2 separate regions of the Homo sapiens genome follow, and region 2 is linked to region 1. The links come from fine-mapping of genetic effects on gene expression. A gene starts in region 1. The other region holds a variant in brackets. All regions are shown on one strand. Distances are between the middles of the regions. Region 1 holds the start of ANKEF1 (ankyrin repeat and EF-hand domain containing 1). Region 2 overlaps SNAP25-AS1 (SNAP25 antisense RNA 1).

Region 1 (2,921 bases):
CATAGGTAATGATTAGACTGAATCAATGCCACTTGATTTGTGAAAATAAGGATTTCCCAATCAGGGACTTCAATGTTGCCTCTGTTAGCACCCATCTCTAACGGAGAATTAATTAGCAGCTACAGTGATGAATTCAGTAGGTCCATGGGTCGGTTTCCTGTGGACTGCCTCCCTCCCAGCTAAAGCCCTGAAGTGCTGGGGAGAGGGCAGCACCCTGTATAGTGTCCTTCACAATCAACTGCTAAGACTGACCAAGAGCTCACCCCACTGCAGGAAATCACACAAGTGTAGCCCTTGGGTCCTGGGTTCCTTGTAAATTGAGCAGCATATAGGATCCTCCACATACAAGCACACCTGTACTTTTCCCCAGCATGACCCTGGGCCACCTTAGTCACATCTAACCATCTACCAAGGTAGTGGAATAGAGCAGAATGTCTTGACTTGAGGTCCATGTTCGGGGTCTGAATACTCGGAAATTACATGAAAATCTGTGGGAATCTGTGTGTGTTCAGGTCATTTAACTCTCAAAGGGGGGCTGTGCGACAAGGAAGGATCATTAGAAAGAGGAATGGAGGAAGACAAGCTTGGTACAGTGGAATGTAGGGTTTGAGGTGGGGAAATCCGTTGTGATCCTCCCTTCCCTGTATCATTATTTACACAAACTAGTTGGATATAAATATGGATATGCTACCTACCTAGTTTTTACCTCAGTTTCTGCATCTGTGAACTGGCAATAGCAATGGTGCCCACTTCATGGGACTGTGTGAAAAGGAAATGAGATATGATCCTTGTAAAACATTTAGCAAAGTCCTTCAATATAGGCTCCTTATGAATACACCAAACTTTTGCGGGTTTCAGCTCACCCACAAGTGTAAGCGATAGTTTACATGTTGGGGGTTCTCTACTGTGCTTTCCACTTTTTAGTCTCCAGAAAAATCTGGAGAAGAGAGGAGTGGAGGGGGTAGAGATGTAACGTCAAAGGAAAAGCCATGTGTCATGCTCACCTCTTAGTCTTCCGGGCGATCAGAAGCCAGGGATCTCTGGGCACCTATGTGCCTGGGCCTGCTGGGGCGACCGGGGAGGCCCCTGCTCTCGTCCTCTGACGCTCAGCGCTGGCCCAGCCGCGACCTTGGGCTCCCGGAGCCCGGCGGAGGCGCCCAGGCGTGAATGATGTCCCTTGGGTAGGGCTGGTGAGCTGGCGCGCGGGACAGCAGGGCTGGGTGTATGTGTCCATGGGCCCCGGGTCCCCGGAAGGCGAGCGCGCGGGCAGGTGAGCGCAGGGGGCGGGGTGGAAGCCGGAGGGACCGGGCTGATTGTGAGCTTCCGCCACGCAGGGCGCGGCTGCCGGGGCAACCGCAGCGTGCGCGGTGGGGCGGTGCTCGCCTCCGCCTCCGCCTCCGCCTCCGCCTCCGCCTCCGCCTCCGCCTCCGCCTCCGCCCCCGCCCCCGCCTCCGCCTCCGCCCCTCGCGCCTGGCTTCGACGCCAGGTGGCCGGCCTGGGCGGGATGGGGTAGCTGCGCTGGGTGTTCCAGGGCGGAGCGCAGAATGCTGCTGTCTTGAGGATTCCGCCCTTCTCTCATTCTCTTCTCCCACCTCCTGCCCTGGGTCAGAACGTAATTTAGTTATAAAATTAAAGCTGCATATGGCAATTAAAAAATGAAGTAAAATATACAATAAATATTTAGTTTACAAAGTACAATTAAATGAAAAATACAATAAATTACACAATAAAGCGAAAGTGAACCTACTCTCAACTGCCACAGATTCTTGCAAATCTTCCCAGAAATTTTCTTTCCATACTCTAGGATGCATATATGCTTAAAAAATATTTATACACAAATGGAAGCAAATATGGAGATCACTTTATTTCAGGGCCTACAAATGCACCATAACACCCCTCTCTCTCCCTCCACACATGCTTTTTGGCGGAAAATTCTGAAAGCTTTGGTTTGATTATGTGAATGTAAAACATATATATGTGTGTCTATATATATATGCTTTTTAATGCAGTATGTAATTGCTTCCAATTAAAAACAGTAATTCCTTACACCAGCCTACCCTATTCTACTCAGAGACTGTTTAAAAATGTTAAGAGCGAAGACATGGAATCAACCTAAGTGCTCATCAATGATAGACTGGCTAAAGATAATGCGGTACATATACACCATGGAATACTATGCAACCATATAAAGGAACAAAATTATGTCTTTTGCAGGAATATGGAGCTGGAGGCAATTATCCTTGGCAAGCTAACGCAGAAACAGAAAACCCAATACTGCATGTTCTCACTTATGAGTGAGAGCTAAGTGATGAGAACACATGGACACATAGAGGGGAACAGCACACACTGGGGCCTATTGGAGGGTAGAAGGTGGAGAGTGGGAGGAGGGAGAGGATCAAGAGAAATAACTAATGGGTACTAATCTTAATACCTGGGTGAGAAAATAATTTGTGCAACAAAACCACATGACACAAGTTTACCTATATAACAAATCTGCACATGTACCCCTGAACTTAAACGTCAAATAAAAAATAATAAAAATGTTATTAAGGACTATTTCATGCACACCAAAATATACTGTATGATATATGGAAAGTACATACCATACCATACCATAGCTAAAGAAATACCATAGCTAAAGAAAAAGAAAGCTAGGAAAAATAAAGGAAAAAGGAAAAGGAAAAAAAAGTCTGCCTCTACTGCTGTACTTATATGTATTTCTTCCCAACACTGCATCCTCCTCTTCCTGTTCCCAGAGATAATACCTGTTCTGAATTTTACATTTATCATCCCAGCCTCTTAAAAATGCATTGCTACATTGAATGCCTCCCTAAATAATGCATGTTTAATATTGCATATTTTGAGAATTTATAAAAATGTGGTAGAATGTTGTGTATTGTTTTGATGACTTTTTTCCTTTC
Region 2 (2,921 bases), 40 kb before region 1:
GAACTTATTGTTTAAAGTATTTTTGGTGCAAGGGTCAGGCTGCCAGGAAAGCAGTGGGCATCTGCTTGTGGTTCTTGGGGTTTTACCCAGTGTCTGCAACCTCTATTTAGTGCAGGAAGAGAGTGTGGTCCAGCATCTACCTGCCTATCAGGAGTCTTAAGGGCCCAAACTGGTAGAACACTGAGAGCTTTTTCTTTATTATGGGAAATGATATGCCATATGATATCATTTCATTATATAACCTGCTAGTAAGTTACTATATTAAGAGCTCACAATTAGTAAACTTTGGTATTTCTACATTTGAAATAGCACAATACTGGAGCTTATTGAGAACAGTAATTCAGGATTCTGTGAAAGTCAGCGTCCACTAAATATTTCACAACACTGCAAAACTTGCACCGCTGCTGCACACAGGCAAACAGTATGAATTCCCACAGGGCTTGGCCAAGACACTGTGTCATCAGTGCATCCATAGTGTTATCTACAGTTTTTAATTGCCGCTATTCTTGCTGCTTAATCATCAGTCATTGTTGGTCCCAACTCTTCTTACTCTACTTTCTTTTATATTTGATTTTCCTTTGTAGAAAAATGTCTTGTGAGTTTGGGACTCCCCAGAAGTAGAGATGTGGATGTGAGTGCAAGTGATTTGCTTCGGGAGTGATCCCAGGAAACAATGGACAGGAGTGAGGAAATAAGACAGGAAAGGAGGAAAATTACTAAAGGAGTGTGCTAATGTGCAGAATTGCTGCTGTGGGTAACTGGGGCTCAGGCCCTTTGGGACTCTAGGGAGACTTTGCAGGACATTCCTCAATGTTGTCCTACCCAAGAGGTGAGAAGTTGGGATATTTATCCAGCATTTCCTGTCTGATGTCTGTTGAGGGCTGCTTCCTGAGGCATCAACTCACAGATTCTTCCAGTCTGCCCTGCACGCTGAAACACGCTCCTGCAGCCAGAGAAAATCCTCAGGGAGAGCACCAGTACTTGCTGAGAGGCTGTCAGTGAGAAAAAGAATCAGAAGAGACTGTTAATGGAATTGGGTGTACATGGGACCTCTGACAGCATCTGCTTTGGATGCATACTTCCATAAACAGCAGTTAGGGCCCACAGTCTTCTAATCACTTGACTTTGAAACACACGTGTTGCATTTCAATGTGTTATATAAGATCAAATTGCTGATCAAATTGCTAAGTATTCAGTGAAAACTATACGTAAGGATGTGATCTTAAAATTGAAACCTGGATAATGGGAAGAACCCAGCCATGTGAACAGCGAGGGGAGAGTGGTCTTAAAGTCTTTCCTGTTGCCCATTTATTTTTTATTTTATTTATTTTTATTCTTTTAGATACAGTCTC[G/C]CTGTTGTACCCATGCTGGAGTGCAGAGGCATGATCATAGCTCATACAGCCTCGAACTCCTGCATTTTGCCTATTTAAATTCTGAGCCTAGAACAAGGAAATTTAAATCCTGGATTGCTTGAAGACTGATTCTTGGCAATCACATTCTCATTCAGAATAAAATTGTTTTTAGCCATCTCCTTCAAAATAAACTTTCAAATTTTCCATTTGATATCATTATAATGTTCACGTTCTCTTGTCTAGTCAGTTTCTCTATGCCCACTATTCGTGAAATTTCCCCATCTCATTTCCCCAAACACTGCTTTGACAGTTTCTTTTTTCCACGCTAGGTTTCTCTAAGCCCCCTCGGATTTGCATAGAAACTATAGTTCCTTAGATAAAAATAAAACCTTATTTAAGACCCAGAAAATCTCAATCCCCTATGCCAACAGCAAAGAGGGCAATTTGGATACCTGAGCCTGGACTTGCTCAAATCTTTCTAGTTACAAACTTGCCCCCACTGCTTCCAGCATCTCAGGCAAAAGGTAATTCCATATCTCTTAGACACCAGTGTTGAAATTTTTTAGACTCTTAATGTTCTCTGAGTAATTACATGGCATGAAAAAAAATCAGATGAGTTTTTGAAGAGATGACTTCTCCCCAAGGCCCTGAGTCACAGATTTTTTTTCTTTCTATAGAGTCACTGTCAAAATTGTGAGTCATCCATTTCTTCTTGCCAGTGCAGCACACTCCCAGGGGACACGTGGCTTCACTCCTGAACAAGTTCAGTAAGCAGTGCTGGAGAGAATACTGAAAACGTTAAAGAATTATGAATACAGCTCAGATCTCACTTTCCTGTTTTTTAGATTTTGGGAATTCATTCAGGTGGAAACAGCATTTCTTGCCATCACATGATGGGGGTGTCCCCCTCTGCCATGTTTCCCATCAGTTCTATCTTCCTCCCTTCCAGTTTCTCTGGACATGTCTGACTTTTGAAAGAGTAATTTTCTCCAACATGTATTTTGAATTATCTTCTCTGTACATAATTATTTTCTATCTCCTAGAAATTCTTCATAATTTTTGTTCCTCTAATGGAAGATTTTAATTTTTTATGTACTATTATGCATTATTTTAATCAGTTTTTTTTGCTAAGGCTTTACAGTGAGAGTAGGTACCTGTACTCAGTTTGTAAGTTGATAAAAATTTTTAATAGCTCACTATACATGATTTATTTTTGCATATCCAGCAACACAATGTTGGCTTTCAATAAAGGTTGAATGAATAAAATGTTTAAAGCATTGCTTTTTAAGAAGTTCTAACCTAGTGAAGTCATAAGCAAACTTGAAAAATGTGTGTTAAAATAATTCTAGGTATCAGGTTTTCTAATCTTGTATGCAAAATCTTATATCAATTTAGTTGAATTTGCTTATACAGTGTTAGCAAGAAAAACAATTAATACATAAGCATATCTTCGCATAGCTGCAACAGAAAAAAAAGAAAACGCCCTCAAAACTATAAACCAGTATTTTAATGTATGTATGATTCCTGCTTGATGCATTTCATTACTGATATTCCAGGCTTTTTTCTTTT

The links. PIP is the estimated chance that this variant, and not a neighbour inherited with it, causes the effect.
Region 2: its variant is the best candidate, but not a certain one, in a credible set for the expression of ANKEF1 in fibroblasts (GTEx, PIP 0.89).

Annotation. Positions count from the first base shown.
Region 1 is chr20:10,033,417-10,036,337 of GRCh38, reverse strand. ANKEF1 (ankyrin repeat and EF-hand domain containing 1) reads right to left here and starts at 1,351. Exons shown (of 11, transcript NM_022096.6): 1 at 1,005-1,351; 2 at 696-759. All of the region lies in intron 3 of SNAP25-AS1 (SNAP25 antisense RNA 1), which reads left to right. RefSeq lists a silencer at 1,011-1,560.
Region 2 is chr20:10,073,810-10,076,730 of GRCh38, reverse strand. The region is part of intron 3 of SNAP25-AS1 (SNAP25 antisense RNA 1); the gene reads left to right. Among named protein-coding and RNA genes, the nearest start is that of ANKEF1, 40 kb to the right of the region's middle. RefSeq lists an enhancer at 1,166-2,365. The variant G/C (reference allele first, on the strand shown) is at 1,353.